6 separate regions of the Homo sapiens genome follow, and all the other regions are reported to be linked to region 1. The links are microRNA targets in miRTarBase. Many come from high-throughput screens and were not tested one by one. Region 1 holds a microRNA gene; each other region holds the end of a gene's coding sequence. Distances are between the middles of the regions.

Region 1 (5,075 bases):
GGGTTGGTCATGTCATACAATGGCCTCCCATCAATTTAGTATAATCAATCCAAACCATGGTTCCTTCATTAAGAGAGTGGGTAATCCTCCAAGTCCATCCAGTCTATTCTGTAATCCCCAGTGGGTGTCCGTATTGATACAATTTCTTTTTGTTCCTGTTCACTCGTGTCTTTTTAGTGTAATCTGCTTGTCCGTAACACTGAAATTTGTTTTTCCCCAACATCTTGCCATCATTTCTCGGAATAGACCTGCTTTCTCTGCAGGAAGGGTGTAGTTGATTCAACCCTCACCCACTAATGCCAACCCCAGTGAGTTCTTTGACTGTAGCTGCCATGTTTATCCTATTTTCTTTGGGTAACGATTCCAAGGTACCATTCCAATGGGCTTAAACCTTGCATCTAAATGCCAGTTACTTGCTAAGATGTCAAATGTGTCTTATATTAGCTGTGGCTAATATAAGAAACTGTTGTAGACAAGATGAATCTCAGTCACAGTGATAAATGTAGCATGCAACAAAACCAGTTGTTTTCACAAAAATCTTGAGGACCCTAGAAGGGGCTCCCTCGTAACAGGTGGAATGCACAGCAGCTCTTCTTGTTGCCATAGTGAGCGATGCATGTTCTTCCAGTCCTCAACACCTTTTATTTATTTATTTATTTATTTATTTATTTTATTATTATTATTTTTTTTTGAGACAGAGTCTCGCTCTGTCACCCAGGCTGGAGTGCAATGGTGTGATCTCAGCTCACTGCAACCACTGCCTCCCGGGTTCAAGCGATTCTCTTGCCTCAGCCTCACGTGTCGCTAGGACTACAACCGTGCACCACCACGCCCGGCTAATTTTTGTATTTTTAATAGAGACAGGGTTTTGCCATGTTGGCCAGGTTGGTCTGGAACTCCTGACCTCAGTTGGTCCACCTGCCTCAGCCTCACAAAGTGCTGTGAATACAGGTGTGAGCCAACACGCCCGGCTATCAACAACTTTTCCTACGTAGAAATTATTCGGGCACTGGTTTATAGAACCTCACGTGGGTTCACGTAGAATTGAAGGGGACCTCAGCGTCCCTTGCAGATGGGATGTGCAATGTATTTGAGATGTACTCGAACATTGCTGTTGAGGTGTGGGCATCTTTTGCTTTTTCCTAATTTTAAATATGGGACTAGTCTGGGTATGGTGACTTCCACCAGTAATTCTAGCACTTTGGGAGGCTGAGACAGGAGGATCACCTGAGGTCAGTTGTTCGAGACCAGTCTGGCCAGCATGGTGAAACCCCGTCTCTACTAAAAATACAAAAATTAGCCGGGTGTGGTGGCACTCACCTGTAATCCCAGCTACTCGGGAGGCTGAGGCAGGAGAATCACATGAATCTGGGAGGCGGAGGTTACAGCGAGCAGAGATCACACCGTTACACTCCTGCCTGGGCAACAGTGTGAGACTCTGTCTCTAAATAAATAAATAAATAAAAATAAAAATAATTAGGTGAATATGGGACCAGCATGGACTTGGGTGTCGCCTTTGTGCAGTGGCCAGGATATTCTATGTCATTTAAATTTTTTTATGTGTACTTCCAAAGCAAGCAGTTATGTATAGGAATTATTCTTCCTATAAGCATGCAATATTTGGAACTTTCTTTGAGACAGGGTCTCAAAAATACATGATGTATATTTCATTTTATATTCTTATATATTATGTACACACAAAATACTCTTCTAAACACAGAGAATACTCCGATATCACCTAGGGTGTGTGTGCGTGTGCGTGTGTGTGCGTGTGTGTGTGGTTCTTTTCTGAGACAATATCTGCCTCTGTCACCCAAGATGGAGTGTGGTGGTGCAATCTCGGCTTACTGCAACCTCCACCTCCCACCTAAGCCTGCTGAATTAGTCTCTACAGGCATGCACCACCACACCTGGCTAACTTCTGTAATTTTTGTACACATGGGGTCTCGCCATGTTGCCGGGGCTGGTCTCGAGCTCCTGAGGCAGGTGATCCTCCTGCCTGGGCCTCCTAAAGTTCGAGGAGTTAGAGGTCTGAGCCACTGGGCCCCACTTGTACTTGTGTATTTCTGCTCAAATTTTATTGAGTAGTTTTTACATCCTAGCCTGTGATCTACTCTGGAGAGTGTTTGTGCATATGACAGTGTATATTCTTCAACATCGTAGACTCCATTTTGGATGCTCCCTTCGTGACTGTGGGTCCTGTACTGGAACTCGAGTGAACACTTGGCTTAAAATCCATTGCTGTTCTCCAGAAATCCTGCCCAATTTTCTCGGTTAAAGGTACGTGTAGTAGGCATTGCTTTTTCTCTTTGGGGACAAAACTCAGGAGGATTGCCCCTTGATGAACAAGGCTAACCTGCTGATTCTTTGAAGCAAGGAACTGGAGATGGTCCTTATAGAGTTTTATATTCTGGATTCCATAAAACATGCATACAGGGTCAATAAATGCATCTTTATTTTTGTGTCTATTTTAACTTGGTCAAAGAAAATTCCAGGAAAAAATCCACGGCATCAGAGCAAGAAGATGTCAGGCTGTGACCCTCTTGAGGGAAGCACTTTCTGTTGTCTGAAAGAAGAGAAAGTGCTTCCTTTTAGAGGCTTACTGTCTGAGAAAAGCAACGTTGTAGTTGATGCTGATCTTTGTAATATCTTTGCAGAGCACGCTTATAATCAGACTTGGATGATGTTGGGGTTTTGTTTTTCTTTTGTTTTTTTATCTAAGACTGGGTCTCTGTTGCCCAGGCTGAAGTGCAGTGGCACAATCTTGGCTCACCACAACCTCCGCCTCCCGGGTTCAAGTGATTCTTCTGCCTCAGCCTCCCAAGTAGCTGGGATTATAGGACTGCGCCACCATGCCTGGCTAATTTTGTATTTTTAGTAGAGACAGGGTTTCTTTAGGAGCTTTTAAGGCCTCCCTTGTAGTCTATCCTGGAGGATGTTTGTGTGTGCAACAATGTATATTCTTCAACATGGTAGATTCCATTTTGACTGCTCTAATCAGGACTGTGTGTCCCTGTGCTGGAAATCAAGTGAACACTTGGCTGAAAATCCACTGCTGTTCTCTAGAAATCCAGCCCAATTCTCTTGGTTAAATATAAGGTATGCATAGTAGGCATTGCTTTTTCTTTCTGGACACAAAACTCAGGAGGATTTCCCCTTGATGAACAAGGCTAACCTGCTGAGCCTTTGTAGGAAGGAACGGGAGATGGTCTTTTTAGGGGTCTATGTTCTGGATTCCAGAAAACATGCAAACAGAGCCAATAAATAGGTCTTTATTTTTGTCTCTATTTTAACCTGGTCAAGGAAAATTTCTACAAAAAACCCAGGGTGCTGGAGCAAGAAGATCCCATGCTGTGACCCTCTAGAGGGAAGCGCTTTCTGTTGTCTGAAAGAAAAGAAAGTGCATCCTTTTAGAGGTTTACTGTTTGAGGAAAGCAACAGTGAAGTTGATGCTGATCTTGGTAATACATTTGCAGAGCATGCTTATCATCAGACTTGGATGATGGTGGGATTCTGTTTTTATTTTGTTTTTTTTTCTAAGACAGAGTCTCTCTTGCCCAGGCTGGAGTAGGGTAGCACTTCCAACGTAGATCTTTTAGGCTCAAACGGTCCTCTTTTTTTTTTTTTTTTTTTTGAGGCGGAGTCTTGCTCTGTGACCCAGACGAGAGTGCAATGGCGCGATCTTGTGTGCAAGCTCACCTCCTGAGTTCAAGCAATTCTTCTGCCCCAGCCTCCCAAGTAGCTGGGACTACAGGTGCCTGCCACCACTTCCAGCTAATTTTTGTATTTTTAGTAGAGACAGGGTTTCACCACGTTGGCCAGGCTGGTCTCAAACTACTGACCTCAAGATCCACCCACCTCAGCCTCCCAAAGTGCTGGGATTACAGGCGTGGGCCATTGTGCCCAGCGGTCCTCTTTTTTGAGATGGAGTCTTGCTCTGTGACCCAGGCTGGAGTGCAGTGGCAGGAACTTCGCTCCCTGTACCCTCCACCTCCCAGATTCAAGCCATTCTCTCCTGAGTCAGCCTCCCTAGTAGCTGAGATCGCAGACATGAGCCACCATACCCAGCTAATTTTTGTATTTTTATTATTTATTTATTTACTCATCGATTTTTGAAACAGAGTCTTACTCCGTCCATCAGGCTGGAGGTCAGTGGCACAATCCCACGTTCAAGCAATTCTCCTGCCTCATCCTCCCGAGTAGCTGGGATCACAGGCGCACACCACCACGCCCGGCTAATTTTTGTGTTTTTTTTGTTTGTTCGTTTTTTTTTTTTTTGTAGAGACAGGGTTTCAACATGTTGGCCAGCCCAGTCTCCAACTCCTGACCTTAAGTGAGCCCATACACAATCAAGAAGAGAGCGAGACCTGTTCTTTTTTTCTGTCTTTGACTATTTGAGACAGTCTTGCTCTGTCACCCGAGATGGAGTACATTAGTGTGATCTTGGCTCACTGCAACCTCTGCCTCCTGGACTCAAGCAATTCTCTTTTTTTTTTTTTTGGAGAAAGAGCCTCTCTGTGTCTCCCAGGCTGGACTGCAGTGGTGTGATCTCAGCTCACTGCAACCTCAGCCTTCCAAGTAGCTGGGATTGCAGACATGTACCCCCATACCAGCTATATATATATATGTATTTTAGACACAGTTTCACCATGTTAGCCAGGCCATTCTTGAATCCTGACCTCAGGTGATTTGCCGACGTAGGCCTCCCGAAGTGCTGGGATTACAGGTATGAGCCACTGCACTCAGCCTTTTTTCCTAATTTTGAATATGGGACCCATTATGAATTTGGGTGTCACCTATGTGCGGGGGCTATGGAAATCTCTGTCACCCCATTCATTTGTGTGTGCTGTCAAAGCACCAATATGTGGGAATTATGCTTTATGTGAGCATATAGTATATGGAACTTTGGTTTTTTTTTATACAGGGTCTCAAAAAAAAATGAGTATATTTCATCACAATGTTCTGTGTATAATTCCATACACACAAAATAGTCTTCTATACACAGAGAACACTCTTATATCACTTTGGAGTTGTTTTTGTTTGTGTATTTTGTTTTAATTTTTATGAGACAGGGC
Region 2 (5,075 bases), not on the chromosome of region 1:
CTCTATCATTTGACCTGACTTTAGAACCTGACCTCAAGGATATGGCAGCGCTAGCCTTTAGCTCCCACAGCACGGATGGGGGTGATGCCAGTTAGAAGTGGGTAGTGAACGTTTGCTGAGCTGTTCACTGTTTCTCTCTTCTCTTTGGAAGCACCTCTCCGAGCCATGTGAGCCCCCTGATGCCACCGAGCAGGGGCAGCTTCATGACCGATGTCTGGCTGAGGCTGTGGCGGACACTCTCGGGGTTGTCTGCAGGAGAGCAAGCCAGGAGGACATGGGCCTGGACGACACGGCCTCGCAGCAAAGTGTGTCAGACGAGCAGTGACGGGCGTGCGGCCGGGCGGGGAGGCTGGCTCCCCCACACCTCCCACCTGCATTGCTCTCCCTCGTGCTCCCCAAATCACCACAACCAACCAATACCGCGATCCATGAGGGACTCCTCCTGTGGAAAAGGAGAGCTGTTCCAGAACACAGAACTGATCTCAGGTTTTTGAAAAAAAAAAAAAAAAAAAAAAAAAAATCAAACAACAACAACAAAAAAACCTCACATGATGGGGAAACAAAAAAAAGCAACAAAGAAGCCACACCACACCTCCCTGGCCAGGCACAGCGCTGCCCAGAGCGGCACACCGCGGACAGCACCACACATGTTCCAGAATCTGAAATCTCAAAAGCCATTCACTAACTTAAAACAACTCAACAGAGCCATGAAACAAATGCCCTGATGAAAATAAGACAACTGCATGTTACATCATCGGCACTTTATACATTACTGTTACCATGAAAAAGAAATGAACAGCAGCACGTCTGATACCATCAGCTGGGCAGATGCATTAAGGTTAAATCTAAGTGTCAAGAAAACCCTATTTCTTTATAATATTTATGCAGCTGTTAAGCGTAACATGGTGGCAGCTTCACAACAAGAACCGTGATCATGCATGCAGTCATGTCTCCAGTATTCTGTGAAAAGCCAGGATACGTTAGGATGTGAGTTTAGAAACTGAGTCCATTCGGTGCATGGAAATCCACCGCGGAGTCACACAATGCTCCTCACTGTAGTCCAGGCGATTGGTGGGCCGCCAGCACCCTGCGGGCTTCACAGGGACGCGTGCTTGTTCTCCAAGCCCCGCAACCCTTACTGTGCACACAACATCGCACACACCTTTGTTTTTGAAATTAAAATGTTTATAGTTATTGCTGCGTCCAGTGTTTTGAGTTATACTGAAGCTTCTCATTTCTACAAGTATATCTTTTATGGTGAGAACGACATTTGGGTAAATTCTGAGACAACTTTTCCCATCTTCAAGACCCCAGGAACCTGTATCCTTGCTGGGGTAGAGGTCCCAAAATGCAGTCCATAGAGTATCACTGGCCTGGTGAACCATCCCTTTTCAAAAGACAATAGTTAGAAGGAAATACTCAATTTTAAACAGTCACACAAATTTCTTCAAAGTATTTAGGATTTGGAAATTTGAGGAGAGGGTTGGGGGAAGGGTATTGTAGAGAATCTCTTGCCCCTTGGAAAGTAAATGGTAATGCTTTTCTAATTTTTTTTTTTGTAAACTAAGAATCAGCAATTAATAAAAGCAAGTGTACTCTATAATCACAGACAGAAGGTTCTTATTTTCAGGTCAGCACTCCCTAGAGGTGCAAACTTTATTTAATTTAAATGCAGTTGTTTGTCTAATGGGAAGCTGATAGGGCCTTGCTGCAGTTCTCTAAGGTGGCCAAATTAAACTTGGCTGGCAGCTCCTGTAATCCTCTTGGGCAACTTTACAGCCAAGCCCCAAGGGCTAAATGGCAGGCCTGGAGCTGTGAGTGTGGCCTCCCCACGGAGGGTGACTCCTTGAGTTCAGTGAGGAAAACCACGGTGCCTGGCAGTGGTCAGCCAGGAGTATGACTGGCCACTCCTTAGGCATCCAGAAGTAGGAAACACAGAAAGCATTCCACAAAACGGGGAATCTCCCCAAAGAGCTAGAAACCCAGGCTGGAAGGAAATGGCAGCGCAGGCAAGAGAGCAAGAGCACCCTGGGTGCTCCTCCATCCCGTTTCTCTGGGGAGGTTCATGAGGTGCTTCTTCAACAGTTATTCTGTTCATTGCTTATCACAGTTCACGAGTTCTCGTGGCATCTTTTGTGGGGAGGAGGGAGGATGAAAGTGACACAGTGTATCTACAACACTAAGGTCACATTAATCAGATAGGAATGCAGTGACGCTCTGCACCGTCTATGAGAGCGGGCATCTCGAGTGTGCATACCGAGGCACAGATGTGCACACACATCCGCAGGCAACTGCACCCACAGAGAAAAGGTGGCAGTATTGGAGTCACCCCAGGATTCTTGGGGGCTGTTTGACCAGCCATCAACAGTGCAGCCATACTTCTTTTTCTTTTTTATCGTGGTACACAACTTTTATATTTACAACTCATGAACTTGTTAATCTGGTCCTTCATCTAGTCAGCTATGTATCAGAAAGGACTTCCTGCAAAATGTTATATTCTAAGCCCCCATTTAGAGGAGGCATCCCTAAACTGACATTTCTTGCTAGAGTTGTTCAAATATTCTGCCAGTATATAGCTAAAGAGTTATTTTCCAGTTCAAGAGTTATTTGGGGGCTGGGCACGGTGGCTCACGCCTGTAATCCCAGCACTTTTGTAGGCTGAGGCAGGCAAATCATGAGGTCAGGAGTTCGAGACCAGCTTGGCCAACATGGTGAAACCCCGTCTCTACTAAAAATACAAAAAATTAGCTGGGCGTGGTGGCGGGTGCCTGTAATCCCAGCTACTCAGGAGGTTGAGGCAGGAGAATCGCTTGAACCCAGGAGGCGGAGGTTACAGTGAGCCGAGATAGCACCACTGCACTCCAGCTCAAGCGACAGAGTGAGACTCTGTCTCAAAAAAAAAAAAAAAAAAAAGAGTTATTTGGACACAGATCAAAATGGTTTCTCCTCTAAAGATAATATTAAAACCATAGCACTTGGTTTTATATAAATCATGTGGCCAATTTGGCATTATTGATTCTAAATTTTGCAGTGTGTTGAAATCATCTGGCAAGTAATTTGTTAAAATCATGCGATGCTTCAACTTCTTTGCCCACAAAATGTGCAATGCAATGCCTGTTTACTTAGCCCACCCGTCTCCAGCCTCATCTACCATGCTGTTTTGTCCCAAGTCACTATGCTACACAAGCATCCGCCATCAGCACACACACAGGTGTGATCCACAGACACAACCTTCTATGAATACGGTAATTGGCAGGAAAAGAAGAGGAGCAGGTCTGTTCCACATTTTCCAGCCCACCAGCGTTCCCACCCCCTTGATAACTGGAGGGCTGGGAACTGAGTGCCTGAATTTGCAGCTTTACTAGGATCTCTCCCTGTCAAGGCTGATCATCAGAGATGACACTATCCATTTAAAAGACTCACCCATCTCCCTGCATGTGCTTACCCTCACTGAGAGGTAAGAAGAAACAATTTATTAAACTATTACGTGTTAAGCAGCTGGCGGTATGATCTGCTAAGGAGGAAAAGGAAAGAATGATTTAGTAAATCGTGCTTCAAATCAGTCCTGATTCCTCCCATCCGACCTTGTTATTCTAGCTGAGATTCTTCATATAAGCAATACATGTTAATTCTGTGCTTTTCAAATTGAATTCCTCCCTGAGACTCATATCCAACCATCTGTTAGATATTTTGCTTTGTTTGAATAGGAGGCATTCCAAACTCAGGTATAAGAGAATCCCTGACTTCAATCTGCCCTGCTGCCCCCACCCCACCATCCGGCAAGAGCTCCTCACCTCAGCCGTGGCACCGACAGGGAGGTGGCGCTCAGCTCTGCTCCTCTCATCCTGGCTGCGTGCAGGGAGGGGACGGTCACGTGGAGTTCTGCCACGGCACCTCTTCTTCCTTTAAATCTCAGCATGACACTGTTGCTACAGGCTGTGTGCGTTTGGCCCTGAGTTCTAGTTATCTGTGAATTCATCTTATCCTTCATTAAATGTCATTGCCTTACAATACAGGGATTGCATCTGACATCTCCATACATGCTCCATGATCATTCTGTTTGACTAATACAACAATCATTTCAGGACCTCACCACAAGAGACACTAAACGTTCTTTGGATTTACAGCAGTTTATCACTGCTAAATGTCAACTCTGAGGTCTGGGGGCACAAAACACACTAAAAATGCTAAAGCCTCAAGAAGGACGCAGCAGGGAGTGATGAAAGAGTGAACTTTGGAGCCACGCAGACGTGGGTTCAAATCTCCTTTGTCACCGCTATCACTGTGCTCCTGAACGAACCACTTAAACACTCCAAGCTTGTCTCTTTACCGTTAAAGGGAAAGTGTGCAGAAGCTCCCGCAGCCCCAAGTGCTAGGGGCCACCCTGAATCTGTTCCACACAAGTGCATACTTTCAAGTAGGCAGTGACACTCCCACCCCACATAAGCACAACTGGCTTCAGTGATAAGCCCCTCAGACTAGCTATTTAACTTTGAAATAACCTTCACCAGCTTTCTTTCTCATTTAAGACAAAATCAAAGTCTACAAAACAGACACGGCTGAAACACCAAGCTCAAAAGGACAAGCACCAGAAGGAACATGGCCCTTGGTGTTTCAGATGCATGAAGGGCGGAAACGCAAAACGGCCTCCCGGAGGTGCCAGGAAAGGCTCCATCTTGATGGGGTCCCACTCCAGCTGGGGCTGACCAGCTCCACCACGCCTGGGTGCACATTGATGACATTTCCCCAGCCTGCCTCCCTATCTCTTGGTTCTCCTGAGGGCTGTGGTACTTTCAGATTTACGGCCAGGATCAGGTTCCCAGGCCTTTGTGGGAAGCCTCTACCCAACTCAGAGGCCGTGCCTCTCCTGGCCCACTGAGGCATGCAGCCCACACCGGTGTCCTGGTGATGGTGGCTGGAAGTCACAGCCAGCCTGCCAGACATCCTGAGCTCGGAACTCAGTCTCCCTGAACAGCCCCGCCAGGCAGGGACTGTGGAAGGAGATGCCCACTTCCTCCTCCTGGGCAGGTAGCCCTTTTGAGGGCTTAGTTCATAATCTATTAGGCCTCCCTGTT
Region 3 (5,075 bases), 19 Mb from region 1:
AACACCGAGGGCCAACCCCACTCATCCCCCCTTGAGTTAGTACCGCCTCTATTCTGCGCAAGGAAGCTGTCAGGTATTCTCCTGAACTGACGTGGTAGCACACAACATGGCTTTAGGCCCCAAACAAGGTAAAATCATGTTGAGTCACATGGTCAGAAAGTAAATCACCTTTGAATATCTCTTATGTTTTGTTTGTTTGTTTTTGAGATGGAGTCTCACTCTGTCACCCAGGCTGGAGTGCAGTGGTGTGATCTCGGCTCACTGAAAGCTCCACCTCTTGGGTTCAAGCGATTATCCTGCCTCAGCCTCCTGAGTAGCTGGACTACAGCATGCACCACCATGCTTGGCTATTTTTTGTATTTTTAGTAGAGATGGGGTTTCACCATGTTGGCCATGCTGGTCTCGAACTTCTGACCTCAGGTCATCCACCTGCCTCGGCCTCCCAAAGTGCTGGGATTACAGGCATGAGCCACAGCGCCCGGCCTTGAATATCTCTTAATCCATCAAATGAGATGAGGGAGAAAGTCTCTATAGTAAGGAATTAATTTTACCCCAAAGGGCTGACTTCTGGCCTTGCTGTTGGAAGGTAATCTCTAAGCCCTTGGAATGTTCTGCCTGATAAGAGTGTCTCTATTTACATAGGGACCTAGGGCCACACCAGATCATTTCTAACAGTGTGATTTCCATTGAGGAATGTGGGCCACACAGTATCAGCTCCACCCCTGGAGGGGCTGGAAACTAATGTCGGCCACACGTGTGGTCAATTACGTCTATGTGACTGAGCCCCAGTAAAAACTCTGGACGCCAAGGCTCGAGTGGGTTTCCCTGATTGGCAACACTCTGCGTGTACTGTCCCACATGGGTGCCCGCAGAAGACAGCGCTGGGAGGAGACAGCTGGAAGCTTTGCACTTGGGACATTCCTGGATGCTTCCGCATGTGTCTCTGTCCTCGGCTGGCTTTCATCTGTTTCCTTTCACTATAATAAACCCTAACTGTGAGTCTGAGAGCATTCGGTGAGTTCCGTGAGTCCTTGTAGTGAATTGTCAAACCCTCGGGAACCCTCAAACCCGCAGCTGGTGTCAGAAGTGAGACTCACAGTCAGAGCTGAGAGTTCCAAAGAAACTCCCAAACCCTGCAGTTTCTTTGGGCAGCAGCGTGAAGATCACCTCCCTGATATTTGAGGGTCTCCCTCCAACACCACAGACCCAGGCCTCTGGTTCACAGCCCTCTGCAAGAAACTCCAGACCCAGCTAGAATGCAACATAACATCTTCATTTCTTTTCACTGGATTTATTTATTTATTTGACAGAGTCTCACTCTGTCACCCAGGCTGGAGTGCAGTGACACGATCTCAGCTAACGGCAGCCTCTGCCTCCTGAGTTCGAGCAATTTTTGTGCTTCAGCTTCCTGGGTAGCTGGGACTACAGGCGTGCGATACCACGCCCAGCTAATTTTTGTATTTTTATATAGTAGAGACAGGGTTTCACCATCTTGGCCAGGCTGGTCTCTTACTCCTGACCCCAAATAATCTACCCACCTCGGTCTCCCTCCCAAAGTGCTGAGATTACAGGCGTGAGCCACTGCGCCTGGCCTTGGATTTATCTTTATAGCTATCTTCTATCTATATCAAGCAGTACTGATTTTCCATACATGATTGTGGCTTTTAAAATAAATATGTTTAAACTAAAAAGGGAGTTGATCTTTTAAAAGAGAGAATAATAGTACAGATGGGGTGAAAATATGTCATAAGTTGGGAATATGTGATGATTGAAGTTTGAGAACTATCGTACTAGAAACATCTTGCACACACTGGTGTGGCCACCACCCAGCCAGCAGGCAAAAATAGCTGCCAGCATTTCCTGTTCTAACCGGAAATTTATCTTCCCTGCCACAACCTATGTCCCCCACTGCCCAGTGCTTCTCAACGTTTTCAAAAAGCAACCTGCAGTATGAAATGCATTTCATATCACACTATCATGTATACTGTTAGGTTGAGCCATATGACATTGCTAGTTTTATAGGTCAAACACATTTGAATATTGACATTTTCAAATTATTCAACTTAATATATATAATCAGGCTGGGCATGGTGGCTCACACCTGTAATCCCAGCACTTTGGGAGGCTGAGGCGGGCGGATCACCTGAAGTCAGGAGTTCGAGACAAGCCTGGCCGACATGGCGAAACCCCATCTCTACTAAAAATACAAAAATTAGCCAGGCGTGGTGGCGGGCGCCTGTGATCTCAGCTGCTTGGGAGGCTGAGGCAGGAGAATCGCTTGAACCTGGGAAGCAGAGGTTGCAGTGAGCTGAGATCACTCCACTGCAGTCCAGCTTGGGTGACAGAGCAAGAGTCCATCTAAAAAAAAAAAAGAGAAAAAAAAAGACATAATCCATTGTATATGTAAATGTATACTCATATCTAGATGACATCCCCTCCTGATCAGTTAGACATCTGTTCTGCTTTATGTGGTAGGTGCAAATAATGAAATAATTTTAGTATCCCCCTGTATGTGTATAATATACATATTATAATGAAGATATGCATACATATATAATGTATATAACATGCTACATATTATATATACAGTCTTATATTTGAGATTAGTGATGCAGTAATAACATTTATAGTGATGCATTAATAACAATTATATATGTTATAATTGTCATATTCTATACATTATATATAATTATATTGCATATGATGTATATGACATGCTATGTATATTATATATATACAATCTTACATTTATTAGTGATATACTAATGTCTTTTAAAAATTATTCTTTCTTTCTCTCTTTTTTCTTATGCTACTCAGAGCCCACTAAACTGATTTAGTAACCCATGAATGGGCTATGACCTGAAGTTGTGAAACACTGTTATGTAAGCCCTGTGACCGGGACCTTGTCTCTTGATTTTGGCACGACCCTTAAGCCTGAGTAGAGCTCTGGTCTAAGTCCTGCACTTCAGGGGACCTGCTCTGGCCTAATCTGGTCGAGCCCAAGGGCCTTCAGGAAGTGCCCACCAGCACCTATGCTCTTCTCGACCATGTTCTAGATCCCTAGGACCCCTGAATTCCTCTCCCAAATTGCTCTGCGCCCATGCTGGGGCCTGCAGGGCCTTCTTGGTGGACACATTCCTAAGCCAAGAAGTGCCCTGGAGGGTGGCCATTTGTGTATTGGGGGCTGTGGATAGAGCTTGGAGGTGCAGGCTGTGGCATCCACACTCATGTGTGCAAGGCCCCTCCCGGTGTGGGAAGGGACTAGAAGTAGGAAGGAGAGGGGATCCCTGTGATCTGGGACCTCCAAACCCTTAAAAATGTTAGGGGTGAGCTGACACTGGGTACCTGCTCCCTTATGGGGACCACGCCAGTGTTCTCAAACTGACTGCAGGCAGAAGCCAGCCCTGACTCTCTCTCTGGCCAGTCACCCAGCACACAGACTCACCTGCAACCGCCCACCGCCATCCTGTCTGCCACACACTAGACTGGCTTCCCTAACTTTATTCCCTGCCTTGGCTTGTTATATTTTTCTTTTTTAGAAACAGGATCTCACTCTGTCACCCAGGCAGGAATATAGTGGTGCAATCACAGCTCACTACAGTCTCGACCTCCTGGGCTCAAGCAGTTCTCCTGCCTCAGCCTCCTGAGTAGCTGGGACTCTAGGCACGCACCACCATGCCCAGCTAATATTTTTATTTTTTGTAGAGTCAAGGTCTCACTATGTTGCCCAGACTAGTCTTGAACTACTGGCCTCAAGTGATCCTCCCGCCTTAGCCTCCCAAAGTGCTGGGGTTATAGGTGTGGGCCACCACGTCCGGCCTTTGCTTTATTCCTTGAGGGCCCTGAGGCAGCCCCTGCCTCCTCTTTCCACTCCCCTGTCCCAAATGATCAGAGATCCTGGGGCAAAGACCACAGTGCTTTACTTTTTGTCTTAGCAGAGGAGATAACTTGAGGGACAGCCCCCAAGGCGCCAGGTAGCCTTCAGGGGCGGGCAGGGTTGGGGGAGGTAGGAGACTCGGACCGGCAGCCCTGGCTCCAGCTTCATCATCTGTGTCTTCCCTCTCTGGCCAGGCTCTTCGAGGGGATGCAGGAGGCTGGGCACGGTGAGCTGGCAGGGGGCTTGGTCTTCGGGTGCCCAGCAGGTTGTCAGCTCCTGTTTCTGATGGACTCACCTGCAACGATTCCGGCATAACCGGGACAGCTGCCTGCACTTGCCACCTGTGGGTGAAGGAAATGATTCAGTCACGAGCTAGAGTGATATTGATTCTTATCGTGTGTTGTGGGGCTGGGGAACCAGATTGATCAACCCTGCCCCTCGGGAAACTCAAAGGCAACTCCATAAACAAATGATGGAGAAACACACCGAGAACAGCCAGTGCTGGGGCCCTGCGAGAGGCCCTTCCCACACAGGCTCACAGATGAGCCGTTTGGAAACTCCCATTATTTTGTATCTCACTTATTCATTCATTCAGGCACTAAGAACACAGTTGAGGACAAAGAAAAAAATCCCTGCCCTGGCAGAGTTGTCTTTCTATGGGGAAAGACCAACAAGGAGAAAAATTACAAAATCAAATGTATGAAGGTGCTAAGTGGGAGGGTGTTAAGTCCTACAAAGGGAAATAAGGCCAGGAAGGAGGCATGGAGGCCCAGGAGCTGGGCTCATCCTCACAGGGATGGCTACTGGGGCTTCAATGAGGAGGTTACTTTTTTTTTTTTTTTTTGAGACAGAGTCTTGCTGTGTCACCCAGGCTGGAATGCAGTGGCACAATCTCAGCTCACTGCAACCCCCACCTCCTGGATTCAAGCGATTCTCCCGCCTCAGCCTCCCGAGTAGCTGGGATGACAGGCATGTGCCACCAAGCCCAGCTAATTTTTGTATTTTTAGTAAAGACAGGGTTTCACCATGTTGGCCAAGCTGGTCTTGAACTCCTGGCCTCAAGGGATCCACCTGCCTCAGCCTCCCAAAGTCCTGGGATTACATACGTGAACCACTGTGGCCTGCCAAGGAGGTGACATTTGAACAAAGGTCTGAAGGACGTAAGGGAGACACCTGGAGGAAGGGTGTTACAGGCAGA
Region 4 (5,075 bases), not on the chromosome of region 1:
ACCATGCCACTGCACTCCAGCCTGGGTGACAGAGCAAGACCCTGTCTCAAAAAGTAAAAAATAAAATAAAATAAAAATAAATAAGTGACATACTAGTTCCTCGGATCTTTTACTTTTTTCCAAATGAAGTATGCTGTCAATTTACATTTTTCATGTTTTTTCAAAAGCACACAATTTACTAGTTAACTCAATGAATTACAATACTGTTATTGAATATAAACATACTGAAGAATTAAAGGGAAAAAAACACACCTGACACTTTAACATGTGCCTTAACAATCTTGCATACTAAGGTACAGAATACTTCAGAAAGTAACAATTAGCATAGTCTTATAAGACTAGGAGAATAAAAGTGCCCTGCAAACATGGCTTCTATGTACTTAATATGGTAAAACATGTGACAGGGAAGCCTGTAAGGTAAAACTTAAAAAAAAAATCAAATAAGGCAGATTATAATTTTTTTTGTTCGCAAAAGAACAAAGGAGAAAAGGGGAAGAATAAAAACATTCTCCATCTTTAAAAGAAAAAATATTAACAACCATAAGGTGCCACTGTATTTTAGCAAGCTGTAAAAATGGCCTTTTAAGAGGAATTTTGCAATCTTTACCTCCCTATCATTTGGGTATTTTGGGAACTGACCGAAAGTCATGGCTGATGCTTCACCCATTTCATGTCATGGACGCCTGGGAAGCAGGTAGTTAAATACAAAGCATATTATGTGATAACCCTTCATAAATATAATTTGAGACACTGACACTAGGAGAGGATACTTGGCACAGAAAAGACATGTTATGGGGCGGGGGACACATTACTTGAGGCAACACTTACAGCCAATCAGTTTCCTAATCTTAAGGTTTGGATGAATTCCAATCGTTTTTAAAAACTGTGTGTGTACACACACATATTTTATTTCCTGGTGCTAAAGGTCTTATAAACTGTACAATTACCTACATTCCAACACTAATGTGAACACTTTTCTCAATCCCCACCTCCATTAACACCATTAAGGTGTAACTAACATGTTCTTTTCAGAGCAAATATTCCAAATTAACAAGGTGGCTCATCTTCTATAGTGTTGATACAAAGTCAGCAAACTTTTAACTTAACTTGCTCAATTTTGTTTCTAATAGTACTAATAAACCTCAACTTTGGCTGGACATGGTGGCTCACGCCTGTAATCCCAGCATTTTCGGAGGCCGAGGCAGGCACATCACTTGAGGTCAGGAGTTCAAGACCAGCCTGGCCAACACGGTGAAGTCCCCATCTCTACTAAAAATATAAAAACTAGCCAGGTGTGGTGGCATGCGCCTGTAATCCCAGCTACTCGAGAGGCTGAGACAGGAGAATTGCTTGAACCCAGGAGGCAGAGGTTGCAGTGAGCCGAGATCGCTCCATTGCACTTCATCCTGGGCAACCAAGTAAGACTCTGTCTCAAAAAAACAAAACAAAACAAAACAAAACAAAAAAACCTCAACTTTGTCAGCTGCTCAGAGTTAAAACAATTCAAATGTTTCAGACTAGAAGTGAGTTTTTAAAAACATCTGAAATATTCAAGAAAATTTGGGTTTTGGTACTTTTCCTTATGCTCTGAACAATGTGAACTCCCAACATTGTTTATCCTTGTTCCTCTTACTGCATGAAGTTCAAACTAGGTCTTAAAGACAACTTTTCTGTACTTAAGAAAAAGTGCAAAGATAGAAAATGAAATGTAAGGTGTTTTGCAAGAAATGCTCCCTCGAGAATGGTGTTTGGATGTGGGTGGGGGGAAAACGATTTTTGTTCTCCATTGTAATCTGACACCTACGAATGACCTTGTCTTCAATGTCCACAACACTAGTAAGCATGTAATAATCACGGACATCGCAAGATTAAAAATTAAGTAGCAAATTCCACTAAAACACTTGTATTCATTCTATACAATCGAATGGAAATCCGTGAGTGCTACTGAAAAAGGTGTTCACATGCACATGTCCAATATGTGCATTCCACTGAAGGCTAAAAGCTTAAAATTCTATTTCCAGTGTTTATGAATAGCTTCAATATCTACATTCATAGCCAGCATTCTGCTTGAGTTACCTCTTACTTTAATACTTCACAAATGAGTAAGTACGTCTTGGGAGATTAGGAAGGTACCTGTTGTCAATAACTTTCTCTTATGCTTAGAATGTGCTGCAATTGTTTTTAAACTATTTAAAATGAACACCCCTATAATAATGAAACACTTTATGCCAAGAAGAAAATTGATTTGTTTTTAGCCAATCAAGACTACCCTGCAGATCTGAAAACTGTAGATTACATCCTTAGGAAAGGAGAAAAGGAGGCTCACAAATATAAAGGAATCCTGACTTTTACACGGACAAATTTTTAAAAAGATAAAATGTATTACATAAGCGCCATAAACAGTGAAATCTGCTTATATTAAAAAAAATAAGTGAAGCTTTGTTTGGACATTATTTCCTTGCAAGAGCAGTACATATCCTTAGTAAACAACTACCATATTTACAAGTTAATTTCCTTGATACTTAGATAGGATTGAAAGCCAGAAGAAATCATGGAAGAGTGAGCTTTGAAATAATCTTTACAGCTAAGTTGGTAACAGTGAAGGTACCCAGACAATTCCTAAAGCAGACTTGTTTATTTTGTAGAGTATTTGACTACGTCTGGGTAGCTAGCTTGCTTTGATAAAGGCCAAGGACAAGTTCAATCCCTATTTTGGCCTGTTAAAGCTTTTCCCAGAAGAACAAATATCTGCTCCATAGTCATTCTAATCCTAACCCCAGCTAGTCTCAAAAAAGAAATTAGGCAAGAAGACTGGGGTTATCATGAAGTTACTCTTACTACTAAGAAACCAACATAAAGTGCATGTCCATAGATAGCGAGTCAGCAGTCTCATTTTCATATATGGGCAGCACAATTAAAATTTGAATTTCAAATAACCCAACATGACTTTCAACAAAGGATAAAAATCCCTTAATCTTCAACTGGTCTTTAAATTTGAGATGTTAGGACTGTGTTAGAGATAGTAATGAAATATGATCAAGTGTGCACTGGTACCTTAAATGACAAATCTCAAAAACAACACAAATTCGAGACTTTCCTATTAACACACACATGTGTACCAACTGCAATTCATATGCTAAAAGTGGTTTTATAGTCTCTTTCCTCCATTTTTTCATTTTTGAGGAGCAGACTTGTAAATTTAACTTGTGCTAGGTAGTAGTGGTTTGTTTTTCTTAAACCAAAACTCTGCCAAACTTGCTGATCTTCTGCTTCATCTACTCAGGTAGAATACCAGGTCAAGCTGCTGCTGTGGCTGCTCTCACCATATGAAACCAGTTTGTGTCTGCATTATTACTGTCTTCAGGAAAACTTTAAATTCTTCAGTTTTCTTTACTCCTCCCATATTTCACTTCCTGCCTAAATCCAAGTTAAATTATACAATTTCCACTGGTCTTCAACACGGTTTAATTCTGCACTGTCCTTTCCTTTGCATGTCACAGTAGCTGTTCACACATTAAATATTATAGATATGTTCTGCTCTTGACATCTACACACTTACAAAAGCAGCTTTGTACTTTGTTTGGTGTGTTTGTTACTATGTTGGCTCACAAAAAGCAGTTTTCTCAGTTCTAAGCATGGTACTTTACAATTTTTAATGCATTCATACAACAGTGCATTGGAAAAGTACTGAGCCTCTACAAAATAGCTTTACATTTTTAAACAAATGAATGTGATTTTTTTTCACTTACACAAGCATAGGCTTTTTAATATTTCCACAAGATAAATATCTCAATTAAACTATAAGCTCACTCTACAGTGTGCCACAGTGATGGGCTTAGGAGACAGTTATACACTTAGAAGATCCTAACCTTAGTGTTATTTACACTGACATGTCCAGTATCACCAAGTCTGAAAGGTGAACAAACAATACTCAGAATGTGGCTGAATTTGTGTTAACTAATAACTGGGAATGATATAGCTTTAATCACTTATGAAACACATACTGTAACTTAGTCTAAACTGGTAATTTCCTTTGCTCCTCTCTTATGGTGTGGGAAAATTTAAAGATCAACATGAAAAAGGAGCCATTGCTAAGGCAGATCTTTTAAGATAACAAAGGAAAAATTGACAAGTGTATATGATAAATTATCAGTAACAGTGATGCTACCAATTTAACTGGTACGGAAATCAGATTTTTAGGTCCTATAACGTGGCTTTTAAAATATTTCCTTTTATTCTGGAACAAAAACTGGAGAAAGGACAATGATTCCTTCAGAAAGCAATGACTCAATTCAGGTTGTTACTTTACATTTAAGTACCACTCAAAAAGTGGACATAAAAGCAAGTGATTCCTGTTTGCCCATCACTATATCAGCTACATAGCTGAGAGTTCAGATCTTAATTACACAACACTTTCTCTGTTACCAGAAGCTAAGACTGCTCTGCGACAAATAGGACAGGTAGAATTCTCAGATAACCAGCGATCGATGCAGTGGACATGGTACTCATGGGAACAAGGTAGTTTACGAAGTTTGTTGCCTTCTGTATATTCTGTAATGCAAACACTACAGGTTTTTAATGCATCATTTTCACCAAAACTTCTCATTGCCAAGTTGTCAATCTGTTCTTTGGTGAGTCCTCTAGGTTGGTCATCATCATCCTCATTTAAGAGGAAAAACTGAGCCAGGCTAAGGAAGGGCAAAGAGCCACTTTCATCAAATGTGACTGGGGCCCTATGTCGACCCTCTCGCCTGGCACCTGATGAGCCTGATGATGAGCTTCCTTCATTACTGCCTTCAAATAAATCTGAGCTAGTTTCTGAACTTTCACCACCGGAACTGGAACTAGGACTGGAACTGGAACTTGAACTGGAACTGGAACTCGAACTGGAACTGGAACTCGAACTGGAACCAGAACTACTACCACCACCAGAACCTCCTCTTCCACTCCGTGACTCTGCCCTTTCCATATTTCGATTTGAGACTGAGCCAGTAGGCTCTGAGTCGCTATCACTGTACATAAAATAGCTTAACTCACCAAAACCTGTCATTATCTGCCTTAACATGGTCTGAATT
Region 5 (5,075 bases), not on the chromosome of region 1:
ATCACTGTAATCTTTACCACTCCTTGCTTTATATTTTATTTCTCTTAATAAAATCTAACTGATGGGTCTTATGTCATTTTACATCACAAATTTTCTGTTAGAGATTAACAGTTACTGAGATTTGAACATTAATATTACAGATTCTAATTCCTTATTTATGATTCTGAAATCCAGAAAGTTCAAAAAGCTGAAAGTGTTTTCATACATTTGTAGCAATTCAAACTTGCACTGAGCTGCTGTGATACCATTTATATTTTTTATTCATCCCACTTATATTTGATTATGGGGCACTGCTCCAGATCCATTATATACAATGTACATAACGTATTATCTCTGAGAAGTAACAAATCTCAATTCCAAAAATACATCTCCTGTTAAGAGTTTTAGAAAATGGATTACGGAGCTGCAAGAAGATTTATTAAACCTTGATGTTGCCAAGCCAACATAATCTAAAGGAGCACCAACTTCCTATTGTTTTAGAAGCAATTCTGACCTCCTTTTCTGTTTAAAAAATCTAGGTCTAAAAGTCGTTTTGGTCAAGGGCGTCCTGCATAAAGTACCTTAAAATATAAGTAAAAAGAGAGAAGGCACTCTTCTGGACATCTGAAATTGCTCACTTCTTGAAGATCTTCAGAACAATGACTTCCAACTGTTTTATGTTATTATTATTTTAATCCACATAAATCATAATTCTAAAAGAAATGCATAGTTAGGTTTTATGAAAATCTAATTGTAAATATGAAACTTTTTAAATCTGATTTTCTTCTAATATCATTCTAGGCTATGTAGAAAGCAATTATTTACAAATTTGCATAGTTGAGACTCCCAGTGTTTTCCTTTATTTATTTGAAAAAGAAAGGCCTAAACTGTCAGGTAGCCAAGTTTTTTTAAGACCTTAAAAGTTAGGGGAACACAACTGGTAGTGTTACCATGCATGGCACTGATTGTAGTATGTCTTTGGAGCTGTAAATCTTGAGATAGCATTGAGAACTGCAGGTTGTGTGACGAAATTCCCAATGATGCTAATTTTAAGTCTGCATGAATATTAAGGAGTGACAGGTCTCAAGACTGCATTAAATGAAGTTTCAGGGTAAGGTATTTCAGTACTGTGTTGGGCAGAAGGGTTAATTTTTTTCAGCATTATATCGTGGAAAGTACAATGTTAATCCAACTTTTTTTTCTTTCAGTTTTTAATGCTTATCTATTGATCATCTGAGCTGGAATTACTGATTATTACTCTGTCCTCTGTGAAACTAGTGGCATTCTGAATTTGGTAAAATAACCATTGATAGTTTTAGGATAGTAAATCATTTCTGTTATATGAGACACCCACTGTACAGTTCTCAGGGCTCTAAAACCCAACCATATTTCTGTAACCATTCAAATAACTCCTTAAAACAGTTATACTTGCTAGTTCGGTCTAAAATTTTCCAAATACATTAGATAGGTGAAAATTTGCATATATTCAAGAAAAATCAAAATAAAATTCTATTTTATAAATCATGTTTAAATTTTTCTAGCCAGGCAGAAAGAGTGCTCAGGGAAAATTTGTTCCAAACTATAACCATATAATAAATTATGTGTTTGTAAATTATATGTAGGTCTCTGAAAAACTTTAAGATGCACTGTTTCTATTTTTTTAAGTCTTAATTTGCCTTATAACTGACATTTCTTCAAATTATTCAGAGAACAGACTTTAATAATGTGTGACAAAAGAGCAATTTCCATTGAAATATTGAAGTGTTACACTCAGTTTACACGTACAGAAATCATTCTTTTTAGTGAGTCTTTTAGTTGATAAATGAAGCTAGATGTTATTTGATAACTGGCTTTGCCAAGGTTTTTGAACTGCTGTTTAGAAATTTTGTTCCCATTTATATTTGTTTCAATTGTTTGATACTGTGGAAATAGACTTTTATTTTCGAAAGAAAATGTCTTGTAGTACATATTATATGTAAGTACTCTGTTAAATACCAGAGTTTTTTTTGTAGTTTACTGTGTTTTCTGATTAAAGGATTTGGATTTGTACATGTAAACAGTGCTGTAATGGTCACGACTAGATAAGGAAAAAATATATATGCTCTTTTGATTTTTAACTGATGGTAAAAAGGCAAACTGCTTCTCCCCTGGGAGGCCTATACCACTGAATTAATTTTTACAAACCAGAGTTTATCAGAATTTGATTCTCTTCAGAATGCTTTTGGCCAGGTGTAGTGGCTCACGCCAGTAATCCCAGCACTTTGGGAGGCCGAGGCGGGCAGATCACCTGAGGTCAGGAGTTTGAGACCAGCCTGGCCAACGTGGTGAAACCCTATCTCTACTAAAAATACAAAAAGATTAGCCAGGCATGGTGGCATACACCTGTAGTCCCAGCTACTCGGGAGGCTGAGGCACAAGAATTGTTTGAACCCGGGTGGCAGAGGTTGCAGTGAGCTGAGATCATGTTTCTGCGCTCCTAGCCTGGGTGACAGAGCAAGACTCCATCTCAATTTAAAACAAAAAAAGAATGTGTTTTTAATTTTGTTAATGTTTGTCTGTTATACATAGCACTGGTACCGCAAACATTTTACTTAAACTCTTAATAGCATTTCTTTCGCCAGATACTTTAATATTTCACCTTACATTAATCCTGGATTCACATTTCTTTAATTGAAATAAATGTTAATGACAAAAGTTGTTTGGAAAGTCTCTTTATCTGAATTATTCCATCTTCTCAGAAAAAAAGTCTGGAGTAGCTCTAGATTCCACAGGTTTTCATGGAAAATTATCTCTGCTACAAGGTGAAATTTTTGAGTTTTAAGATTATTTTAGGCCAGGCACAGTGGCTTACGTCTGCAATCCCAGCACTTTTGGAGGCCAAGGCAGGAGGATTGCTTGAGCCCAGGAGTTCAAGATCAGCCTGGGCAACATAGTGAGACCTCGTCTCTACAAAAATAAAAATTAAAAAAATTAACCTGGCATGGTGGCACACACCTGTGGTCCCAGCTATTAGGGAGGCTGAGGTGGAAGAATTGCTTGAGCCTGAGAGTGCAAGGCTTCAGTGAGCCATGATTGTGCCACTGCACTCCAGCCTGTGCAGCAGAACAAGACCCTATCAAAAAAAAAAAAAAAGATTATTTTAAATGAGGTTATGCTGGTAAAGATTTATTAAACATTTAAGGGTTAAAATATTTCAGAAAAGATGATCTGATAACAATGCTGATTGTACACAATTGCATTTATTTGTTACTTTCCTTCTTCACAATACTCAGCCAGGTACTGTGAGATGTGCTTATTGCTTTGGAAGCTGAGGCTGAAGCTCTGTCAAGCTTGTCTACTAAAGGCACGTTATAATATAAAAAGAAACCAAAAAAAATGTATTTTGTGTTTAATTCCTGGAATTAATTCTGCAGCCAACCTTCAGCTATTCACTGAGCAACTGTGTCACACTTCTCAGGACTGGGATAGCTAGCCAGTTTAATTCTAATAGGCTAACTCTCTTTCTCCTATTTAAAGCTGATCTATTGGGGAAGATGGTACAAGAATAATATTATTCCACCCTTATAAGATTTTGGGGCAATTAAATAAGTTAATAGATCTAAAACAACTAGCACAGTACTTTCTGGCCTATAGTAAGCCCTCCATAAATGTTTGCTATTATTGTTGCATTGTTATGTTAACATGTGGAAGGTAGCCTAAATTCTTTGAGAGTTTCATATCCCTTTTCCTGTAACTTGAGTTAAGACTGTGTATGTGTGTGCGTATATGTATTTAGTGCAAGAAAGGAGGCACCTAATACTTTTCGTGGTTTCTATGGCATCATTTGAAACTTACAAGCAAATCATATCAAATGTCTTATTTAGGCAAAGTAAGTGGCATTTGTAGAAAGAGCTAGGTAAAGAATACTGTTTCCTGATACGTGGTAGGGAACTATGTGGTAGGGAGCTATGCTGTTTTCAAAGAGGCTTCAACTGAAGGACAGTAAGTGAAGGCCATAGCAAAGTCTAACAGCAGCTCTCTTTCTAAGATGTATCTTTCCTTGAGAAAATATAGCCAGTTTGCTTCTTACTATTTGTTCATGAACACAGCCAATTCTTACCAAACTGAAGGTGATGGTCCTAGTAGTTGCTATTTGTTGAATGCTTTGGTTATGCTAAAGATCATGCTCCTGATACATTCCTTATCTCCTTTAGCCTCACAACGCCCGCCCCCGCCACCAAATTGGGCATTATCCTCATTTTACAGGTGGAAGAGAACATTCAGTGAGGCATAGTAAACTACATACTGGGGTTGGAATCTGGGTCTATCAATACATTCCAACACCTTCTTGAAATAGTTTTCCCTTGGGTTGCCTGAAAATTTTCTCTTAGAGGCCTCCTGCCTCACTGGCAGCTTCTTCAGACTGAAAGCAGGCAACTCGAGTGCACTTTCGGTAGTTTCAGGCTTGTTTACTCAACTGCTTAACATTTGTACTTGGAGTACCAGTAGGTATCTCCAACTTAATTAACATAATCAAAACAGAACTTGTGATATCTCTTCCCATTCCTGCCCCCAAACTCCCTGCTTATTCAAACCCATTCTTTTCCAATTCAGTAAATGGCATTATTGCCTACCGAAGTGCACAAGGCAAATATCTAGAAAGTATTCCTTATTCTTCTCTTTTCTTCACATCTGACATTCAATTTATCAGCAAGTCCCATACGTACTCCACATCCATTTGCTTCTATCTCCACTATCACCACCCCCAGTTATTAACATCTTTTTCATGAAGTACTACAAATGCCTCATAAGTAATTCCCCAGCTTCCATTTCAACTTCTGTATAACTTGTGCTCAAAGCGACGTTCGTGATTTTTCGATGTGGCTCAGATCACATCACTCCCCTGCTTAACACTAATAGCATCCCATCAAACCTAGAATAAAATCCAACCTTCAGGCCGGACGCGGTGGCTCACGCCTGTAATCCCAGCACTTTGGGAGGCCAAGGTGGCCAGATCACGAGGTCAGGAGTTTGAGACCAGCCTGACCAACATGGCAAAACCCCATCTCTGTTAAAAAATAGAAAAATTAGCTGGACGTGGTGGCGGGTGCTTGCAA
Region 6 (5,075 bases), not on the chromosome of region 1:
CAGGGAAAGTCGATTCTACCCCACCAGTGCTGCAACCCGACTCAGTTGTTACATATTTTCAATAAGTCAAAATACATAGAAAAGCTGGGTAAATCTATCAAATTTCTTAACAATGAACACAACATGGCTTCTGGGCTTGGCAAAGACAATGGAATGTGCATAAGATTACATAACCCAGATACAATTCTTCTGATTACTGGATACTTTTTCCCGTGCCCATTGGCCACTCCAACCACCAATGAGTTTCTGTCAATTAAGATCTCCTGCTCATAAAAAAAAAAAAAAAAGAAAAAAAAAGTAACATAGATGAATTTATTTCCAAACAGCTATATCATATGTTTCTTCAAAATGCCAGTGTCTCTGAAGACCAAATGTGGGTTGCAAAGAGGATTACCCAGATCCTCATATGGAATACTCACCCATTCAGTCTAGGGGTACAAATATATTGTGTCCTTAACTCCAACTTCTTTGGAAACAAACAAACAATAACAACAACAACGAAACACCAGAGGCAAAGATATAGGGCAGATCCCTAGCACAATGCAAGTTTTTAGAAGCTTTTCTTATTCTACTTTAAAACTCAATGTAAAAATCATCCCTTTACCAAAACAAAACAACAATACAGATAAGAGCTAAATTACAATTTAGGGATTAGGAGATAAGAAGAGAAGCAGGTTCTCTAAATCTGCTTTAGAATTCTCTTTCAAATCTGTCATAGTCTTGAAGCAAGAATAAGAAAACAGAATAATTTCCCTTTCCCCACTTTAGACAAGTAAATTTATAAAAAACTTTTTTAGAGGTGAGGTCTCACTATATTGCCCAGGCTGGTCTCAAGTGATTCTCCTGCCTCAGCCTCCCAAGTATCTGGGACTACAGGTATAAGCCACAGCAACCAGCTTATTCCAGTAGATTAAATGCTAATGTCTTTACCTATTTCTCACAAAACAAAACTTACAGCCTCAGCAGAGAGTACTTTTAAGTCCATTTTTATTTTGTAGGACTTGTGATAGACACAGTCATAGTAATGTATACAGATTACCAACATGCATTCAAGTAAGACCAGGAGAGAAAAGATGAGAAGTAGAGCTGAAACTTCTCTAAAATTTGGAGTAAGAGCTCTTTTCCATTCTACATTCTCCTGGCTTCTTCCTGCTAGACTTCTCTGAAGGGATCTTGCTTTAGAAACTAAAGGATGCTGAAGCCCTTGCTTGCCAAATTCCAATTTCTCATGTCCTATCTGAGGATAAGACCACCTCAGCTCCTCTTCTGGAGAAAGCGAACTAGCACAGGTGAGAGTGGGGAAATAACAGCAGGCTGAGAGCCAGAATGAACATCCCAGTGACCTGTCTCTAATGCTGGGTTAATGACAGGTTAACACAATGCTAGCTTGTTAGAGAAGTCCCCTTTTGCTAAGAGTGGGTACAGTGTTAATCCAAAGTCTGTGGATCAAAGTGCTCCCTCTTCTCATTCATTAGGTCTGAATTACTCTTACCTCACAGCAGAAGAAAAGACTGAATGCCCATTTGGGCTACAGATGCCACCATCCAAGCAAATGTGGACAATGCAACCTTGTAAAAGTGCCAAACACGCCTCCCCAACCATATCTCATTCTCACACTGGTGGTGGTGGGGGCATCCCCATCCCCCAACCCCTGTAGTCTCATAGCCATAGGACAACAGAAAAGTCAGGAGAAGCGATGTGATGGTTGAACACTTCTAGACTCAGACTGTTGCTATATTGCAAATGTCCATTTGTTATAAATTACATGTCCTGTCTCTTAAAATAACCTTCCTCTGGACAAGGACCTTTTCTTCTACTTCTGTTTAGCTTTCCCCTATCCCTGCCCCTACCAGCCCAAAGCTCCACAAAGACACTAAGTACATGTTATGTAACCACTAAACAGGAATAGCAGGTTACTTAACATCTTGGACACAATTTTGAGAAGAATCTAGGTAAGCAGCCTTTAGAAGCTGCCTATGGTATCCTACTTGGGACATACGAGTAAAGGACCCGGGGTCAGGAGTCAGTTGCCAGTGATGACAACCTTTATCATCCTGGCAGGGTCTGCACCTCTCTCCAGGGTGCTTAAAATCCCCAGCTGCTCTCTAGAGACAATTATTTAATTCAGTGATTTGTTCCACATCACTCAGCAATGTAAAGGGTTAAAGATGGGACTAGAACCTAGAATAACCCTCTAAAACACAGCAGCCTGCCTTCCAGGGGGTTATATCATTTAACATTATGATCTGCTCAAACATCAAACCCAAAGAACTGTCCTTTCAGGACTATGAGGAATTCAGAATTCCTAGGCTGACACTTTTGTCTGAGAAACTACTATCCAGTATTTTTCCACCTAACTTCCTAAGGTGGAGTTCTTAACCCGAGCTATGAATCAGAATCATCCGGGAAGCTACTTAAATACATGCATGTCCAGACCCAGATCCCAGAGATTCTGAGTCAGTATTAAGCATAAGGTGGACACAGGCATGTTTATGATTCAACAATCCTAAAGGCAATTCTAAGGAATACTCCTGGATGAGAACCACAGCAAAAAGTCTTCCATTACCAAATGAAAACACCCTTGGAAAATAGCTAACTCCTTCTCACTGGTTACCTCTAAAAGACCAGCAGATAACTTTAAGGTGGGGAGTCACCTATCTCTTTTTAAAATCCCATGAGAACCCTAAACTTGCCTCTCAGAAAAACATACATATATTCGTACATTTTGCATGCAAAATTGGGAAAGAGAATAAGCCATCATGGTCATCAAGGGGCTAAGAATTTCTTCCCTAAACATTTTCTGTTTAACCCTACAAAGAAAATGAAATGACAGAAGTGAATAGAGAAATACAAACAGTTACGAGCTAGATCCCACAGGGTTCCAAGGACTTCTCTGGACATCAAGATGAGATAGTTTCTCTTTATGAACAAAAGAATACTCCAATGAGAGAGATTAAATTCATCATCAAGCTTTTCCACATTTGGGAAAAAAATGGTCATGTAAAAACTATTTTGTTTTGATGTTTCTTTCTTCTTAAGGACAGTGTGCTGAAATTATTCAAAAATAAGCAGTTTTAGTGAACTCTTCTCTGCCTCTTGCCTTGAGCAACTCAAACATCAGTGGTGACTCCTGAATCTAACTGCCCTTCTAAACAGCCCCAGAGGATACTGGCTTTGGCAGGAAAAGTTGCTGTGATTGGCAAAGAACCTGAGAGTCATGGGAGAAAAGACATGACTGCTCTCTAAGAGCCCTGCAAGAGCTAGAGCCCACCCTACTCTCCTAAACCCCACTCTGCAGACCTCAAAAGACCCAGGCCTGACTCTAAATTAAAAATAAAAACCAAGACATTTCCCACATGCTCAGAGCCAGATTCTCCCAGGGCATCGAAGACTTAGAACTGTTTCTCATGAAAGGAGGCAAGAACTCTCACCCTATGTCTACTTGCAAGCTCCAGAATATTCTGTGGATGTCCTGTAGTCTGGGCTGGCCCTTACAGGACCTGGCTGGAGAGGAAGGGAGAAAGGAAAGGAAAGACTCCTCCAGTCCAGATCCATTTAGACCCACTGCAGAAAGCATTAACTGGGCCAGACTTGTCTCTTGTCAATCACCCCTTCCTTCCTAGACAGACACCACAATGCCATGCATTACACTGGACAATCCAGAGGGGACATGAAAGTGGGGGAAGAAAGCAGTCAAGTAAGGAGTGTGAGGAAAACACACATTGAAGAGACAAAAGTGAAGGAAAAATAGACTTTTTGTCCCCCGACTGCTCACCCGCCCTCCATCCCCCAACACTTCACCAACATGAGGACATTAGTGAAGACACCAGGGAACAGAGAGAAGATCCAAGAGTGTGGGGCATGCTCAGCCCCAAGGGAGTGTATCTTTTTCCTCCTCCTCCAGATCATCCCATCTGAGAATCTGTCCTAAAAGACTCAATTTGCTAACTTGCCCCTGGGTGAAAAGATGTTTCAAACTGAAGAACAGCTTAAGTTGTCCTATAAACACATAACCTCATGTTCTGTGTTAAGATTAATGGTGAAGTGTCAGGGGTGGGCATAGAGGGAGGAAGTTAATGACTCCTTGGTGATTAGTGACAAGGGCAGGAGGCCAGGGCTGGAGGGAAACACACAGTTACACCACCGGAATGCTGACTTGGGTCTTCGGCTAGTCGGCCCCTTCTTGCATGTCCTGGGCACGGAGAGGGCTGAGGGGCTTGAGGGGCCGGCTCCCAACACTGTAATTTCTTGGACGCCTTATTGTATTCGAACTGGACAGAGGCGTAAAGCTGTTCCTTCTCATCCTTACAGGGGTTTGGTTCTTGGGGAAGTTGTTCTGATTGGAAATGGAGTGACACCACACAAATGAAAGCCAAGCCAAAAGCTCACTCATACAGGTTAATAATGCGCTTGTAACCACAACAGCTTCCCTCACTCCTGCTCCTCTGCACACAGGGTCCCTCACAGGGCATGGCCCATGGCCTGGCCTCCTAGCATCAGGGGGCTAAAAGGGAGAAGCTCCTTGAGCATAACATTCCAAAGCAGGAAAAAGACCCAAAGAAAGGAAGGGGCTTATTGAAGACCACACAGATTACCAGTGACAGACCTAGGAACAAACCTACACCTCTTGACCCCCACCTTATAGGCTCCTCTGGACTCTGCTTTCTAAAGGGACACTTGGGGTTGGAGGGGGGTAGTAATTTGCATTTCACTTCAGCCAAACACTTTCCATATTTAATTGGATTTCCAGGAGCCAACATTCAAGGTTAAGACTCATGAAAGGGGTACTAATTTAAAAAAAAAATAATTCCAACATCAGTTTCAGACGTAGCAAACTACATTTGGACGTAAGTTCTGAATCTGTTTCCCTTTTGTACATAAAAGAAACCCCAGTCTCTTGATGTCAAAGCTTCAGAGACTCAAGGTGGCAGGGAAACTGGTGTGTTCATCGTGGGAAAATACTTACAGTTGGCTTGTCACGGTGCGTGTTCACAGCCTCCACGTTAAGTTTAATTGTTTCCACTTTGCACCCTGAGAAAACAGAGGAAAGAGAGGACTTAAAGAAAAAGGTTCAA

Evidence for each region. Region 1 holds the annotated microRNA hsa-miR-526b-3p (GAAAGUGCUUCCUUUUAGAGGC, at 2,578-2,599, shown strand). A microRNA usually pairs through its seed, bases 2 to 8, with sites in the 3' UTR of a target mRNA and lowers its output. Matches are read on the target gene's strand: a 7mer-m8 pairs with bases 2 to 8, a 7mer-A1 pairs with bases 2 to 7 and ends in A, and an 8mer does both.
Region 2: miRTarBase lists PCNX2 as a target of hsa-miR-526b-3p. Seed matches in the 3' UTR shown: 8mer at 758-765.
Region 3: the mRNA of FXYD5 is a reported target of hsa-miR-526b-3p. The part of its 3' UTR that is shown has no 7-base or 8-base seed match.
Region 4: miRTarBase lists RLIM as a target of hsa-miR-526b-3p. Seed matches in the 3' UTR shown: 8mer at 2,855-2,862, 7mer-m8 at 1,684-1,690 and 7mer-m8 at 350-356.
Region 5: the mRNA of SANBR is a reported target of hsa-miR-526b-3p. Seed matches in the 3' UTR shown: 7mer-m8 at 2,236-2,242.
Region 6: the mRNA of PFKFB2 is a reported target of hsa-miR-526b-3p. Seed matches in the 3' UTR shown: 7mer-m8 at 1,575-1,581 and 7mer-m8 at 1,449-1,455.

What each region holds. Positions count from the first base shown.
Region 1 is chr19:53,691,866-53,696,940 of GRCh38, forward strand. MIR526B (microRNA 526b) reads left to right here and starts at 2,528; the gene lies at 2,528-2,610. MIR519B (microRNA 519b) reads left to right here and starts at 3,348; the gene lies at 3,348-3,428. LOC107985342 (a long non-coding RNA gene) reads left to right here. Exons shown (of 3, transcript XR_007067332.1): 3 at 2,164-2,757.
Region 2 is chr1:232,979,554-232,984,628 of GRCh38, reverse strand. It overlaps PCNX2 (pecanex 2), which reads left to right. Exons shown (of 34, transcript NM_014801.4): 34 at 152-1,194. The coding sequence ends at 325. It overlaps NTPCR (nucleoside-triphosphatase, cancer-related), which reads right to left. Exons shown (of 5, transcript NM_032324.3): 5 at 747-5,075. Among named protein-coding and RNA genes, the nearest start is that of NTPCR, 31 kb to the right of the region's middle.
Region 3 is chr19:35,168,709-35,173,783 of GRCh38, reverse strand. It overlaps FXYD5 (FXYD domain containing ion transport regulator 5), which reads right to left. Exons shown (of 9, transcript NM_014164.6): 9 at 3,903-4,218. The coding sequence ends at 4,169. Among named protein-coding and RNA genes, the nearest start is that of FXYD5, 17 kb to the right of the region's middle.
Region 4 is chrX:74,587,038-74,592,112 of GRCh38, forward strand. RLIM (ring finger protein, LIM domain interacting) reads right to left here. Exons shown (of 4, transcript NM_016120.4): 4 at 1-5,075. The coding sequence ends at 4,403. Among named protein-coding and RNA genes, the nearest start is that of RLIM, 25 kb to the right of the region's middle.
Region 5 is chr2:61,121,608-61,126,682 of GRCh38, forward strand. It overlaps SANBR (SANT and BTB domain regulator of CSR), which reads left to right. Exons shown (of 22, transcript NM_001129993.3): 22 at 519-2,673. The coding sequence ends at 555. Among named protein-coding and RNA genes, the nearest start is that of C2orf74-DT, 21 kb to the right of the region's middle.
Region 6 is chr1:207,071,465-207,076,539 of GRCh38, reverse strand. PFKFB2 (6-phosphofructo-2-kinase/fructose-2,6-biphosphatase 2) reads right to left here. Exons shown (of 15, transcript NM_006212.2): 14 at 4,967-5,031; 15 at 1-4,336. The coding sequence ends at 4,169. Among named protein-coding and RNA genes, the nearest start is that of C4BPB, 15 kb to the left of the region's middle.